2 separate regions of the Homo sapiens genome follow, and region 2 is linked to region 1. Evidence: fine-mapped expression QTL. Tissue or cell type: cerebellar hemisphere. Region 1 holds a variant in brackets; the other region holds the start of a gene. All regions are shown on one strand. Distances are between the middles of the regions.

What was found. PIP is the estimated chance that this variant, and not a neighbour inherited with it, causes the effect.
Region 2: YIPF2 starts here. The variant in region 1 is fine-mapped to the expression of YIPF2 in cerebellar hemisphere (GTEx, PIP 0.96).

What each region holds. Positions count from the first base shown.
Region 1 is chr19:10,525,913-10,534,014 of GRCh38, reverse strand. No RefSeq gene overlaps it. Among named protein-coding and RNA genes, the nearest start is that of S1PR5, 13 kb to the right of the region's middle. The variant G/A (reference allele first, on the strand shown) is at 3,615.
Region 2 is chr19:10,924,934-10,933,035 of GRCh38, reverse strand. It overlaps YIPF2 (Yip1 domain family member 2), which reads left to right and starts at 4,397. Exons shown (of 10, transcript NM_001321439.2): 1 at 4,397-4,525; 2 at 4,596-4,656; 3 at 5,077-5,237; 4 at 5,320-5,406; 5 at 7,263-7,350. The coding sequence starts at 4,626. TIMM29 (translocase of inner mitochondrial membrane 29) reads right to left here and starts at 4,225. Exons shown (of 2, transcript NM_138358.4): 1 at 4,120-4,225; 2 at 2,782-4,022. The coding sequence starts at 4,213. The coding sequence ends at 3,334. RefSeq lists silencers at 3,780-3,829, 3,870-4,149 and enhancers at 4,363-5,063, 5,064-5,766.

The DNA of each region.
Region 1 (8,102 bases):
TGCCCTTGAGTAGAACCCAATAAGATAACATTTCCTTCTACTGACTGCATTGTGGCGTCTGTGCATGAATTTTATCCTGGGCCTCTCAACTATTCAAAAAATGTTTCCATGCATCTCCACCCAGTTCCCATGCCTCTTAGTGAAATAAATCATGCCCGGAAATCCCTCCCAGGCAGAGCAGTTGTTGGAACAAATTACAGTCTTGAAGAAAACGTTAACTATGTGGATAGGTACTTTCTCACAATAGATCATGTTCCTTGTCAAACTTCCCCTGTTTCTTGGGGCCATCCAGTCCCGCCTCTCATGCATCCATTACCCTGTGGGTTACATGAATGATGTTCTATAAAAGAGTCCTGCTAATTGCTGCCTTTTTTTTTTTTTTTGAGACAGAGTCTCACTGTTGCCTAGGCCAGAGTACAGTGGCGCAATCTTGGCTCACTGCGACCTCCACCTCCAGGGTTCAAGTGATTCCCCTGCCTCAGCCTCCTGAGTAGCTGGGATTACAGGCTTGCACCACCATGCCCAGGCTAATTTTTTTACTATTAGTAGAGACGGGGTTTCACCATGTTGGCCAGGCTGGTCTTGAACTCCTGACCTCAGAAGATCGGCCCGCCTTGGCCTCCCAAAGTGCTGGGATTACAGGCATGAGCCACTGTGCCTGGTCTTGCTGCCTTTGGCTGAAAGGATGAAAAACTCTCTCTCTTTTCTTTTCTTTTTTTTTTTTTTTTTTGAGACGGAGTCTCACTCTGTTGCCCAGGCTGGAGTGCAGTTGCATGATCTCGGCTCACTGCAACCTCCATCTCCCGGGATCAAGCGATTCTCCTGCCTCAGCCTCCCGAGTAGCTGGGACTACAGGCACGTGCCACCATGCCCAGCTAACTTTGTATTTTTAGTAGAGACAGGGTTTCACCATATTGGCCAGGCTGGTCTCGAACTCCTGACCTCGTGATCAGCCTGCCTCGGCCTCCCAAAGTTCTGGGATTACAGGCATGAGCCACCGCGCCCTGCCACAAAACTCTTTCATTCAACAAATGTATCCAGGGTACCTACTATGCATCAGACACTATTTTGAGTCCAGGCTGCAGCAATGGAAAATCCACACTGTTGTCTCCCCTTGGGGTTTTGGAGATGGGGTGGAGCAGAGAGATGATGAACTCATTACACAAATAATTATACAGTTATGTTTGCAGTAATGATCAAGTAAGAACATACAAGCTTACAAAAGGGGAAGAAACTGATTCTGGGGGCTGTGATCCAGGAGGACTTCTCTGGGGAAGCCACATTTAAGTTGGGTTCTGTATTAGTCAGAGTAGGTCAAGATTTGCTGCAGTAACAAACCAGCCCAAAGCTCAGTGGTTTAACACAATCAAAGTTGATTTCTCCCTCAGGCTATTCATCCTATATGGACTGGCAGGGGCTCAGCTCCACACAGTCATTCAGGAGCCCAGGATGACAAGTCTCCCGTCATCTTGTGGCTGCACTATCTGAAACTCTCTGCTTCAGTTATCACAGAGGAGCAAGAGGCAGACAGGAGAGCCATGCATAAGTTTTTGGATGCCTCTGTTCAGAACTGAAAGACATATAGAATAATGTATGCCACCTCACTCCCACTTCAATGGTCAGAATTAGTCAGGAGAGCCAGCTATCTGCAAATGGCAGTTTTTCATTCAATGGATTGTTGTCTATGCTAGAAATGTCTATCATGGAATCTAATGGATGAGTAGGAGTTAGCAAAAAAAAAAAAGGGGGGGAAGGAAATGTATTCCTGGTAAGACAAACGGCACATTCCCAGACACTGGAGGCTGGGTGCAGTGGCTCATGCCTGTAATCCCAGCACTTTGGGAGGCCAAGGCAGGCAGATCACTTGAAGTCAAGAGTTTGAGACCAGCCTGGCCAACATGGTGAAACCTGTTCTCTACTGAAAATACAAAATTAGGGCCCGGTGCAGTGGCCCACATCTGTAATCCCAGCACTTTGGGAGGCCAAGGTGGGCGGATCACGAGGTCAGGAGTTCGAGACCAGCCTGGCCAATATGGTGAAACCCCATCTCTGCTAAAAATACAAAAATTAGCCAGGCGTGGCAGTACACGCCTGTAATCCCAGCTACTGGGGAGGCTGAGGCAGGAGAATGGCTTGAATCCAGGAGGCAGGGGTTGCAGTGAGCCTAGATTGTGCCACTGCACCCAGCCTGGGTGACAGAGCAAGAATCTGTCTCAAAAAAAAAAAAAGAAAGAAAGAAAAGAAAATTAGGCTGGCCTGGTGGCAGATGCCTGTAGTCCCAGCTACTCGGGAGGCCGAGGCAGGAGGATCACTTGAGCCCAGGAGGAGGAGGTTGCAGTGAGGCAAGATTGCGCCACTGCACTTCAGCCTGGGCAAAAGAGTGAAACTCTGCCTCAAAAAAAACAAAGAGTCAAGTAAAGAAAAAAAAAGCAAGTACCCCTACGTGGACAAATTATACATCATAGTAATTACACTTCTCAACAGTATCCTTCAAAGAGAAACAAAATTACATTTTTATTAAAGCAATAAAAAGAATGTATGCTGTTTGCCAGGCATGTTAGCTCACACCTGTAATCCCAACATTCTGGGAGGGCGAGGTTGGAGGATCCCTTGAAGCCAGGAGTTCAAGACCAGCTTGGGTAAAACAGTGAGCTCATGCCTATAATCCCAACACTTTGGTAGGCCAAGGTGGGTAAATTACTTGAGCCCAGGAGATCCAGACCAGCCTGGGTAACATGTGGAGACCCCATTTCTACAAAAACTAAAAATGAAAAAATTAGCTGGCCATGGTGTTGCATGCCTGTGATCCCAGCTACTTGGGAGGCTAACGGAAGAGGATCATTCGAGCCCAGAAGGTCAAGGCTGCAATAAACTGTGTTCCACTGCACTCTAGCCTGGGTGACAGAGTGAGACCTTAACCCCCACAGCCCCCCCCAAAAAAAAAGAAAGAAAAGAAGGATGGACTGCACTGTGAGTGTCGTGATCAATAGAGACGGAGTTTCGCTCTTGTCGCCCAGGCTGGAGTGCAGTGGCGTGATCTCGGCTCACTGCAACCTCTGTCTCCCGGGTTCAAGTGATTCTCTTGCCTCAGCCTCCAAAGTATCTAGGATTACAGCATGTGCCACCACGCCCAGCTAATTTTGTATTTTTAGTAGAGACAGGGTTTCACCATGTTGGCCAGGCTGGTCTTGAACTCCTCACCTCAGGTGATCCACCCACCTTGGCCTCCCAAATTGTTGGGATTACAGGTATGAGCCACTGTGCCCGGCCTGTTTCTAATTTTTTTTTTTTTTTTTTGAGACAGAGTCTCGCTCTGTCACCCAGGCTGGAGTGCAGTGGGGTGATCTCCGCTCACTGCAAGCTCCGCCTCCCGGGTTCACACCATTCTCCTGCCTCAGCTCCGGAGTAGCTGGGACGACAGGCGCCCGCCACTGCACCCGGCTAATTTTTTGTATTTTTAGTAGAGACAGGTTTTCACCGTGTTAGCCAGGATGGTCTTGATCTCCTGACCTCGTGATCCACCTGCCTCGGCCTCCCAAAGTGCTGGGATTACAGGCATGAGCCACCATGCCCAGCCTGTTTCTATTTTTTTTTAGATAGGATCTTGCTCTGTC[G/A]CCCATGCTGGAATGCAGTAACGTGAACATGGCTCACCGCAGCCTTGAACTCCTGGGCTCAAGCGATCCTCCCTGCCTCAGCCTTATGAGTAGCTGAGACTGCAGAGGCCCACCACTACACCACCAGGCCTGGCTAATGTTTTCTTTTTCTTTTTAGAAATGAGGTCTCACTTTGTTGCCCAGGCTAGTCTTGAACTCCTGGCTTCAAGCAATTCTCCCCCCTGTGCCTCCCAAAGTGCTGGGATTACAGATGTGAGCCACCACACCCAGCTAGTAATAACTATCCAAACCACAATTAGACACCACTTCACGTCTTCTAGTATGGCCACAATAAAAATCAGAAAATAGGTCTGGGGGCAGTGGCTCATATCTCTAATCCCAGCACTTTGGGACGCTGAGGCAGGCAGATCACCTGAGGTCAGGAGTTCGAGACCAGCCTGGCCTACATGGCAAAACCCCATCTCTACTAAAAATACAAAAAGTAGCTGGGCATGGTGGCGTGCGCCTGTAATCCTAGCTACTCGGGAGACTGAGGCAGGAAAATCACTTGAACCTAGGAAGTGGAGGTTTCAGCGAGCCGATATCGCGCCACTGCACCCCAGCCTGGGTGACAGAGTGAAACTCCGTCTCAAAAAAACAAAAAACAAAAAACAAACAACAACAAAAACAAACAAAGAAGAAATTAACGAGTGTTGTTGAAGATTCAGAGACATTGTAATCCTTATACATTGCCGGTGGGAAGGTAAAATATTGTCATTGTTTTATTATTATTATTATTATTATTATTATTATTTTGAGACAGACTTTCACTCTTATTGCCCAGGCTGGAGTGCAATGGCATGGTCTTGGCTCACCACAACCTCCACCTCCTGGGTTCAAGCGATTCTCCTGCCTCAGCCTCCCAAGTAGCTGGGATTACTGGCATGCACCACCACACCTGGCTAATTTTGTATTTTTAGTAGAGATAGGGTTTCTCCATGTTGGTCAGGCTGGTCTTGAGCTCCCAACCTCAGGTGATCCGCCCGCCTCTGGCTCCCAAAATGCTAGGATTATAGGCGTGAGCCACCACTCCCGGTCTTATTATTATTTTTTTAAATGCATTTCTTCCTTCTTTTTCTTTTGTGTTTTTTTTAGGGACAAGGTCTCATTTTGTTGCACAGACTGGAGTGCAGTGGTGTGATCATGGCTCGCTGTAACCTGGAACTCCTGGGTTTAAGTGATTCTTCCACATCAGCTTCCTGAGTAGCTGTGACTACAGGTGCACATTACCATGGCTAACTTTTTATTTTTTGTAGAGATGGGAGTCTCGTTATGTTGCTCAGGCTGTTCTAGAACTCCTGGGGGCAAATGATCCTCCCACACCAGCCTCGGAAAGTTCTAGGTTATAGGCATGGGCCACTATGCCTGGCCAGTGGTGCCATTGCTTTAGAAAATGGTCTAGGCTGGGTGCAGTGGTTCATGCCTACAATCTCAGCACTTTGGGAGCCTGGGGAAGGTGGATCACCTGAGCCCAGGTGTTCGAGACCAGCCTGGCCAACATGGCAAAACCTTGTCTCTACAAAAAATACAAAAAAATTAGCCAGGTGTAGGCCGGGCGCGGTGGCTCACGCCTGTAATCCCAGCACTTTGGGAGGCCTAGGTGGGCGAATCACAAGGTCAGGAGATTGAGACCATACTGGCTAACACGGTGAAACCCCATCTCTACTAAAAAGTACAAAAAAATTAGCCAGGCGTGGTGGCAGGCGCCTGTAGTCCCAGCTACTCGGGAGGCTGAGGCAGCAGAATGGCGTGAACTCGGGAGGTGGAGCTTGCAGTGAGCCGAGATCATGCCACTGCACTCCAGCCTGGGTAACAGAGCGAGACTCCGTCTCAAAAAAAAAAAAAATTAGCCAGGTGTGGTGGCACATGCCTGTAGTTCCAGCTACTCGGGAGGCTGAGGTGGGAGGATCACTCAAACCGAGGAGTTTGGAGTTACAGTGAGCCATGATAACAACAACACTGCACTCCAATCTGTGCAACAGAATGAGACCCTGTCTCAAAAAAAAAAGAGAGAGAGAGGAAGGAAGGAAGGAAGGAAAGGGAAAGGAAAGGAAAGGAAAAGAAAGGAAAGGAAAGGAAATAAAAAAGAAAAGAAAAGAGTCTAGTTGTTTGCTTTGGAAAACAATTCCTCAGGTTCTAATATGAGCCAACAATTGCATGCCTAGGTATATATTCAACAGATAAGAAAACATACAAACATATAAAATGCACGTATGGAAATGTTCATAGCAGCATTATTCTTGCCAGGTAAAAAGTAGAGAAAACTCAAATGTCCATCAGCTGATGAATAGAAAATTAAAATGTCCTATATTTGTCCATGCAATGGAATATTACTCAGCCATAAAAAGGAATTAAGTTGGGCTGGGCACGATGGTTCATGCCTGTAATCCCAGCACTTTGGGAGGCCGAGGTGGGAGAATCACTTGGGCCCATGAGATCAGGACAACATAGCAAGACCCCATCTCTATTTCAAAAAAAAAAAAAAAGGCCAGACGCAGTGGCTCATGCCTGTAATCCCAGCACTTTGGGAGGCCAAGACGGGTGGATCAGGTCAGGAGTTTGAGACCATCCTGACCAACATGGTGAAACCCAGTCTCAACTAAAAATACAAAAATTAGCTGGGTGTGGTGCTGCGTGCCTATAGTCCCAGCTACTTGGGAGACCGGGGCAGGGAGAATCACCTGAAGCCAGGAGGCAGAGGTTGCAGTGAGCTGAGATCCCACCGTGCCACTGCACTCCAGCCTGGGCAACAAGAGCGAGACTCCATCTCAAAAAAAAAAAAAAAAAAGAAAAAGGAATGAAGTACCGATTCATTCTAAAATGTGAGTTGACCTTCAATCATTATGCTTAGTGCAAGAAGCTAGTCACAGAATACAATAAATTATATGATTCCACTGATATAAAATGTCCAAAATAGGCAAATCCTTGGCGGGGCTCAGTGGTTCACCCCTGTCATCCCAGTACTTTGGAAGGCTGAGGCGGGCAGATCACTTGAGGCCAGGCCTTGGAGACCAGCCTGGCCAACTTGGTGAAACCCCACCTTCACTAAAAATACAAAAATTAGCCACGCATGGTGGCGCGTGCCTGTAATCCCAGCTACTCGGGAGGCTGGGGCAGGAGAATTGCTTGAACCTGGGAAGCGGAGGTTGCAGTGAGCCAAGATCACACCACTGCACTCCAGCCTGGGGGACAGAGTAAGACTCTGTCTCAAAAAAAAAAAAAAAAAGGCAAATCCATAGACACAGAAAGCAGATTCGCGCTTGCCATGGGTTGGGAGGCGGGGGAATGGGAGTGATTGCTAAATGAGTATGGAGTTTATTTTTTCGTTTGTTTGTTTGTTTATTTATTTATTTTGAGACATGGTCTTGTTCAGTCAGCCACTCTGGAGTACAGTGGTATGATCTTGGCTCACTGCAATCTCTACCTCCTGGGCTCAAGCAATTCTCCCACCTTATCCCCCTGAGTAACTGGGTCCACAGGTGCACCCCACCACACTTGGCTAATTCTTTAATATTTTTGTAGAAATGAGGTCCCACTATGTTGCCCAGGCTAGTCTCCAATTCCTGGGCTCCAGTGATCCTCTCACCTGGCTTCCCAAAGTGGTGGGATTACAGGCATGAGCCGCTGTGCCTGGCCAAGCATAAGGAGTAGTCCCAACTACTCAGGGGGCTGAGGAAGGAAGATTGCTTGAGCCCAGGAATTGGAGGCTGTAGTGAGCTAGGATCACACTGCTGTACTCCAGCCTGGTCGCCAAGGCAAGGCCCTGTCTCTAAAAATTAATAATAATAGCAGGGCGCTCTGGCTCACGCCTGTAATCCCAGCACTTTGGGAGACTGAGGCAGGTGGATCACCAGGTCAGGAGTTCAAGACCAGCCTGGACAAGATGGCGAAACCCAGTCTCTACTAAAAACACAAAAAAAGGCTGGGCGCGGTGGCTCGTGCCTGTAATCCCAACACTTTGGGAGGCCGAGGTGGGCAGATCATGAGGTCAGCAGATCGAGACCATCCTGGCTAACACGGTGAAACCCCATCTCTACTAAAAATACGAAAAATCAGCTGGGTGTGGTGGCGGGTGCCTGTAGTCCCAGCTACTCAGGAGGCTGAGGCAGGAGAATGGAGTGAACCCGGGAGACGGAGCTTGCAGTGAGCCGAGATCACACCACTGCACTCCAGCCTGGGCAACAGAGTGAGACTCCGTTTCAAATATATATATATATATATGTGTGTGTATATATATATGTATATGTATATGTATATATATATGTATATGTATATGTATATATATATATGTATATGTATATGTATATGTATATGTATATGTGTATATGTATATGTATATGTATATGTATATGTATATATATATGTATGTAAAAAAACATAAAATAAAATAAATCAGCTATCAAGCCTTGAAAAGACATGGCGGAAGCTTAACTGCCTATCACTAAGTGA
Region 2 (8,102 bases), 400 kb before region 1:
GAATAGTTGGTAGTACAGGTGTGTACCATACCCGATTAATTTTTGTGTATTTTGTAATTTTGTGTATTTTGTAGAGACAGGATTTCACCATGTCGCCTAGGCTGGTCTCGAACTCCTGGACTCAAGCGATCCTCCCACCTTGGCCTCCCAAAGTGTTGTAGTTACAGGTGTGAGCCACTGCGCCGGCCATAAATTACACTTAAAAAAAATAAAAAGTATTGAGGCCGGGTGTGGTGGCTCACGCCTATTATCCCAGCACTTTGGGAGGCCAAGGCAGGTGGATCACAAAGAGTTCAAGACCAGCCTGGCCAAGATAGTGAAATCCCGTCTCTACTAAAAATACAACAATTAGCCGGACGCAGTGCCAGATGCCTGTAATCCCAGCTACTTGGGAGGCTGAGGCAGGAGAATCGCTTGAACCCAGGTGGCAGAGGCTGCAGTGAGCCGAGATCATGCCACTGTACTCCAGCCTAGGCAATAGAGTGAAACTCTGTCTCAAAAAAAAAAAAAAAAAAAAAAAAATATTGGCCGGGCGCAGTGGCTCACACCTATAATCCCAGCACTTTGGGAGGCCGAGGTGGGAGGATCACTTGAGGTCAGGAGTTTGAGACCAGCTTGGCCAACATGGTGAAACCCCATCTCTACTAAAAATACAAAAACTAGCTGGGCATCATGGCATATGCCTGTAATCCCAGCTACCCAGGAGGCTGAGGCAAGAGAATCACTTGAACCTGGGAGGCAGAGGTTGCAGTGAGCCGAAATCGTGCCACTGCACTCCAGCCTGGGTGTCAGAGTGAGACTCTGTCTCAACAACAACAACAACAACAAAAATACAATTTACCATAACCTAGCTAAGTACCAGCTGTGTACACTAACTTACTTCTTTTCATAGAATTCTGTTTCAGGGTTACTGAAGTACAACATAACCAGAATCTATGATTCCATATAGATTTCCAGACCAGAAAATGCTTTATCCTTCCAAGCCACCTCCAGTAACTTACAATGCTCATCTGGTAAACAGGTTGTTTTACAAAAAACTTCCCTGTAACATCCCAATAGTCATGACACTGTCAATTGCCTGGTTTTGTATTTTTAATAGGGAACGAGGGCCGGGCACGGTGGCTCACGTCTGCAATCCCAGCACTTTGGGAGGCTGAGGCAGGCGGATCACCTGAGGTCAGGAGTTTGAGGCCAGCCTGACCAACATGATGAAATCTCATCTCTACTAAAAAATACAAAAATTAGCCGGGCGTGGTGGCATGCGCCTGTAATCCCAGCTACTTGGGAGGCTGAGACAGGAGAAACGCTTGAACCCAGGAGGCGGTGGTTGGGGCGAGTGCCACTGCACTCCAGCCTGGGCAACAAGAGCGAAACTCTGTCTCAAAAAAAAACTTAAAAAAATCAAAACAAAAATGTTACTTATTTATTTATTTTTTTGAGCTGGAGTCTCACTATGTTGCCCAGGCTGGAGTGCAGTGGTGCAATCTCTGCTTGCTGCAAGCTCCACCTCCCGGGTTCACGCTATTCTCCTGCCTCAGCCTCCTGAGTAGCTGGGACTACAGATGCCTGCCACCACGCCCAGCTATTTTTTTTTTTTTTTTTTTTTTGAGACGGAGTCTTGTTCTGTCGCCCAGGCTGGAGTGCAGTGGCGCAATCTCGGCTCACTGCAAGCTCCGCCTCCCAGGTTCATGCCATTCTCCTGCCTCAGCCTCCTGAGTAGCTGGGACTATAGGTGCCCGCCACCACGCCCCGGTAATTTTTTGTATTTTTAGTAGAGACGGGGTTTCACCATGTTAGCCAGGATGGTCTCGATCTCCTGACCTCGTGATCCACCTGACTGGGCCTCCCAAAGTGCTGGGATTACAGGCGTGAGCCACCGCGCCCGGCCAATTTTTTTGAATTTTTAGTAGAGATGGGGTTTCACCGTGTTAGCTAGGATGGTCTCCATCTCCTGACGTCGTGATCCACCTGCCTCGGCCTCCCAAAGTGCTGGGATTACAGGCTTGAGCCACCGGGCCCATCCACTTATTTTACTTTTTGAGACAGTCTCACTCTGTTGTCCAAGATGGAGTGCAGTGGCACGATCGTGGCTCACTGCAGCGTTGAACTCCCAGGCTCAGGTGATCCTCCCATCTCAGCCTTCCTGAATAGCTGGGACTACAGACATGGTCCAACATGTCTGGCTAATTTTTCTATGTATACATATTTTCAATTCTCATTCAACACCTTTGGTAAATTTTTGTACTTTTTGTAGAGACGGGGTTTTGCCATATTGCCCAGGCTGGTGTTGAACTCCTAAGCTCAAATGATTTGCCTGCTTTACCCTTCCAAATATTTTAGTTTTTGAGAAAGCTCTCACTATTTTACCTAAACTGGTCTTGAACTCCTGATCTCAAGCAATCCTCCTACCTCAGCCTTCCAAAGAGCTGGGAATGGCAAAAATGTTACTTATCAAAATGAAAGGCCAGGTGTGGTGGTTCACTCCTATAATCCCAGCACTTTGGAAATGCGAGGCAGGTGGATCACCTGAGGTCAGGAGTTCAAGACCAGCCTGGCCAATATGGTGAAACCCCATCTCTATTAAAAATACAACAATTTGCCAGGCATGTTGGCACAGGCCTGTAATCCCAGCTACTGAGGAGGCTGAGGCAGGAGAATCACTTGAACCTGGGAGGCAGAGGTTGCAGTGAGCCGAGATTGCACCACTGCACTCCAGCAGGCAAAACAGAGCAAGACCCTGTCTCAAAAAAAAAAAAAAAAAAAACGAGAGAGAATAGGTCATAGAATAAAAACATTTCAGCTCAAATTTTATTTAGTTAATTACTATTATTATTCTTTTTTGTAGCATCGGAGTCTTGCTATGTCACTCTAGCTGGCCTCAAACTCCTGGCCTCAAGCGATTCTCTTGCCTCAGTTTGCAAACTGCTGGGATTACAGACATCACCATGCCAGGCCACAACCCAAACTTGAAAAAGAAAATCTAAGTGGCCTTAGAAGAGTTTGCAAGTCAGCTGACCAATGTGGTACCTCCTTAAGGAGGGCCTCTGAGGCCCGATGAAAAAGGCTTATATAAAAGGCTCATGACCAGCTCTGCCAGTGATGAACATGTGTCAAGTCGTTCTGCTGTCCCCAACTCCCGGACCCAGGTGGCTCTGAATTAGCTTCAGCTAATAAAGAACAAAGACGGGGGGCAGAAAGGCTCCCCAAACTTGTGCAAATCCAGTGAGAAAACACTTTGCACATCATCTGTCTCAGCTGTTCTGCAGGTGAGGCACACTCAGAACTGCACCACCCCAGGCAAGCAGTTTGCCAGGACTCGGGGGCCTCAGGGTTTCATCTCGGGGCCTCCGCCTGCACCAGCGAGTGGGCCTGGCTCAGGGCGAGCCTGTCCTTCTTCTCCTTCTGCAAGACCTGCTCCTCCCACAGCGCCTGGTCCACCTGATCGTCGGTGAGCACGACAGGCTTGTACTTCTCATCGAAGAGCCGCTCGTTGGTCTCGGAATGCAGCTGCTGGGGCCCGACCACCCGCAAATGCGCCGGCAGGTGCAGGAATTCGTCGTCGTTGATGTCGCAGTCGCGCATCCAGGCCCCCAGCACCCACCAGCGACCCACGAAGCCCACGTCCAGGACCCGGCCGGGGAAGTCGGTCCAGCGGGGCTGCAGGTAGCGGCAACGCGCCTGGTAGAGGCTGGCCTGGGCGTCGAAGGGCGCCTCGTACACCAGCGAGCAGAGCCCCAGGTTGACGTAGCGCAGGCGGCCACGGCCCCGCAGCCAGAGCAGCCTCTGCACGAAGGCTTCGGACTCGCGGTTGCGGGTGGCCGGCGCCAGCAGCAGGAGGGTCCCCGACGCCTCCAGCAGCGCCTCCTCGAAGGCACCCTCGCTGGGCGCCAGCGTGAAGCAGGCCGCCGCGCCGCCCAGCAGACCCACATACACAGCGGCGCGCCCCGGCCGGGCCCTAGCCTCCGCCGAAGCGTCCCTGCAGGCCTCGGCGTAGTCCCGGAGCAGCGCGCGGGCCCAGGACCCTGAGGGGAGAGGAGCGCGGTAAGAGTGATCCGGCCGCGGCGGCCACCCACCCTGTCGCGGCGGCCACCCACCCTGCCGCCTTCCGCCGCTACTCACCCAGCCGCGCCCACACTCCCGGCTTCGCCACTACCGCGTCGCCCGCCTCTGCGCGGCGCCGGGACCAAAATCTCCTCAGAGCCGCCGCGGCCATCCTCTTCCGTCTTGGGGGTCCTTGCTCCGGGAAGAAACTCCTGATACCCGACGTTAAGAGCCCGGGAGTCTCTTCTGCGCAAGCGCCAACTTTACCGGAAGTGGCTTCCCAACGGGAGAGGATAGAAAGAGGACAGGCGCCGGATGTTGCTGTCAGGTCTGAGTCGGTTGGAGTCTGACGGGTAGGCGAGACGCGCAGGCGCAGAGAGCCCCAGCCACGCCGGCCCAGGTGGCCTCAGGTGAGGGGGGGCGGAGCGCACCTGTGGGGACGGGACGACGAGTTCAAGCCTCCGTGGGTGCAGTTGGTCGCCAGGTAGGGCTGGGGGCCGAGGGACCGGCTCGGGGGCGGGGGGGAAGTGTGCCTGACCGGTCTCTGTCCTCAGCGAGGGATGCGGAGACGCCCCTGAACGACCATGGCATCGGCCGACGAGCTGACCTTCCATGGTGAGTGCGGCCCCGACGTGGCCGGATCTCCCACTCCCGCCCCGGGCCAGAACCTCCCCCCGATACGGCTTCCAATTTCTCTACCCCGAAGCCTAGGCGGCTGTGAACCCTGACCCAGGAGTGAGACCCATCTCTGACTCGAACCCCGCCCCCGCCCTGAACTCAGACCTCAAACCCGAGCCTCTCGTCCCCAGACCCTGACCCCATCCCAGCGTCAACCCTAAGTTGCAGTTCCACTTTAGGAGGAAGGGAACAGATGTCCTCCGGATGCCTCCAAACTGAGGAAGTTGGGCCCCACCTTGGGGGAGATCAATGGCTCAGCAGAGCCTCCGCCCCCAGATGAGCATCGGTTTAGCTTGGGCCCAGTCGAGTTCTTTCCACCCCTCAAACGTGCGTGTGTCCCATATACCTCCTCCACAGAATTCGAGGAGGCCACTAATCTTCTGGCTGACACCCCAGATGCAGCCACCACCAGCAGAAGCGATCAGCTGACCCCACAAGGGCACGTGGCTGTGGCCGTGGGCTCAGGTGGCAGCTATGGAGCCGAGGATGAGGTGGAGGAGGAGAGTGACAAGGCCGCGGTGAGTCCCTGTGTCCTGCCTCCTTGCAGCCCCCAGCTGACCCAGGCTCTCCGGGCAGGCACTGAATGCCCGCAATGTGCAGCTCCTGCAGGAGCAGCAGCAGCAGCAGCAGCCGGGATTCTGGACCTTCAGCTACTATCAGAGCTTCTTTGACGTGGACACCTCACAGGTCAGGCTGGGGAGGCAGGTGGGATGGGGCTCAGAGTTATGCTCAGGGTTCAGCCACTCTTCCCCTGGGCAGGGTGCTGGTGATGGTGGGTGCTGGTGAACGAACTGTGGTGCTCTCAAAGGGTTATGGTGGGACTGGTTATGGATCGGGACTATGGGAACACAGGGGACACACACAATCTGGTGGGTTAGAGAAAGGCCTCCTGGGGGAGGTGAGGAATTGGCTGAGACCTAAAGGAGACAGAAGGCTTCCCTGGGGAATAGGGTAGGGAAGCAGGAGTATATGTTCCAGGCACAGGGAACAGCATATGCAGAAGACCAAAGATGGACTGGGCGCAGTGGCTCCTGCCTGTAATCCCAGCACTTAAGGGGGCCGAGGTGGGCAGATAACCTGAGGAGTTCAAGACCAGCCTGGCTAACATGGGGAAACCCCGTCTCTACCAAAAATACAAAAACTGCCGGGTGCGGGGTGGCTCATGCCTGTAATCCCAGCACTTTGAGAGGCCTGGGTGGGTGGATCACCTGAGGTCAGGAGTTTGAGACCAGCCTGGCCAAACATGGTGAAACCCCGTCTCTACTAAAAATACAACAAAATTAGCCGGGCTTTGTGGTGGGCGCCTGTAATCCCAGCTACTCTGGAGGCTGAGGCAGGAGAATCGCTTGAATCCGCCAGGCGGAGGTTGCAGTGAGCCAAGATCGTGCCAGTGCACTCCAGCCTGGGCAAAAAGAATGAGACTCTGTCTCAAAAATAAAATAAGATAAATAAAATAAAATTAAATAAAAAATAAAATAAAATAGAAAAATTAGCCAAGTGCAGTGGTCGGCGCCTGTAATCCTAGCACTTTGGGATGCCGAGGCGGTGGATCACTTGAGGTCAGGAGTTGGAGACCAGCCTGGCCAACGCGGTGAAACCCCATCTCTACTAAAAATACAAAAATTAGCCAGGCATGGTGGCACACACCTGTAGTCCCAGCTACTCAGGAGTCTGAGGCTCGAGAATCACTTGAACCTGGGAGGCGGAGGTGGTAGTGAGCCAAGATCGTGCCACTGCACTCCAGCCTGAACAGAGTGAGACTCTGTCTCAAAAAGAAAAAGGGGGTGCTGAGGCCGGGTGCGGTGGCTCACGCCTGTAATCCCAGCACTTTGGGAGGCCAAGGTGGGAGGATCATGAGGTCAGGAGATCGAGACCATCCTGGCTAACACGGTGAAACCCCATCTCTACTAAAAATACAAAAAATTAGCCGGGGGTGGTGGTGGGCGCCTGTAGTCCCTGCTCTTTGGGAGGCTGAGGCAGGAGAATGGTGTGAACCCAGGAGGCGGAGCTTGCAGTGAGCCGAGATGGCACCACTGCACTCCAGCCTGGGTGACAGAGCGAGACTCCGTCTCAAAACAAAAAAAAAAAGAGGGAAAAAAAAGAGGGGGCTGGGAACGGTGGCTCACGCCTGTAATCCCAGTACTTTGGGAGGCCGAGGTGGGTGGATTACCTGAGGTCAGGAGTTCGAGACCAGCCTGGCCAACATGGTGAAATCCCGTCTCTATTAAAAATACAACTATTAGCCAGGCGTGGTGGCACACGCCTGTAATCCCAGCTACTCGGGTGGCTGAGGTAGGAGAATTGCTTGAGCTCGGGAGGCAGAGGTTGCAGTGAGCCGAGATCATGCCACTACTCCATCCAGCCTGGCCGACAGAGCAAGACTCTGTCTCAAAAAAAAAAAAAAAAAAAAAGAGAGGGAAAGGCTGAGTTCTTTCAGGTGGGGCATGGAAAGAGAAGGGTGGAGGTCAGCAGGGAAGGAGCCTCTCAGGACAAGGGAGAAGCTCCTGGCAGACTTCCATCCTTGACCTTGGCCTTGCCCCCAGGTCCTGGACCGGATCAAAGGCTCACTGCTGCCCCGGCCTGGCCACAACTTTGTGCGGCACCATCTGCGGAATCGGCCGGATCTGTATGGTGAGTGAGGTTGTGCATTTGGTTCCTTGATGGATCACTCAACAAGTGTGGCCTGAGTTGCAGATGCCAGTGTATAGCTGCGGACAAATCAGTCACTCAGACAGTGTGACTTACCTGCTGTTCAGGGAGACAGAGACATGAAGGACTGCAGAGGGTGGCGGGTAGAGAGCAGCAGAGCAGACAGGAGGAGTGGCCCTGCAGTTCTGCAGGGTGCAGCAGGGCAGGCCTCCCTGAGGAGGGTGAGGGAATGAGCCTTGTTGGCAACAGGAGGGGTGGGGGAGACCTAGGAAAAGAGGCTTCCAGAAACGACGTAAGCTTCATGGCAGGAACTTGCATGAACTGCAGGGCGGCATTACCACTGGAGCGAGTGAGCTGCAGGGAGGTCACAGGCGAGGGGACAGATCACACAAGCCTCCCATGCTGTGGCAAGAAGAGATCTTTTTTTTTTTTTTTTGAGACAGAGTCTCACTCTGTCACCCAGGCTGGAGTGCAGTGATGTGATCTCAGCTCACTGCAATCTTCCCCTCCCGCATTCAAGCGATTCTCCTGCTTCAGCCTCCTGAGTGGCTGGGATTACAGGCACGTGCCACCATGCCCGGCTGATTTTTATATTTTTATTAGGGACGGAGTTTCACCGTGTTAGCCAGGCTGGTCTCAAACTCCTGACCTCAGGTGATCCACCCGCCTCGGCCTCCTAAGTGCTGGAATTACAGGTGTGAGTCACTGTTATCTGGCCGAGAATGGATCTTTAA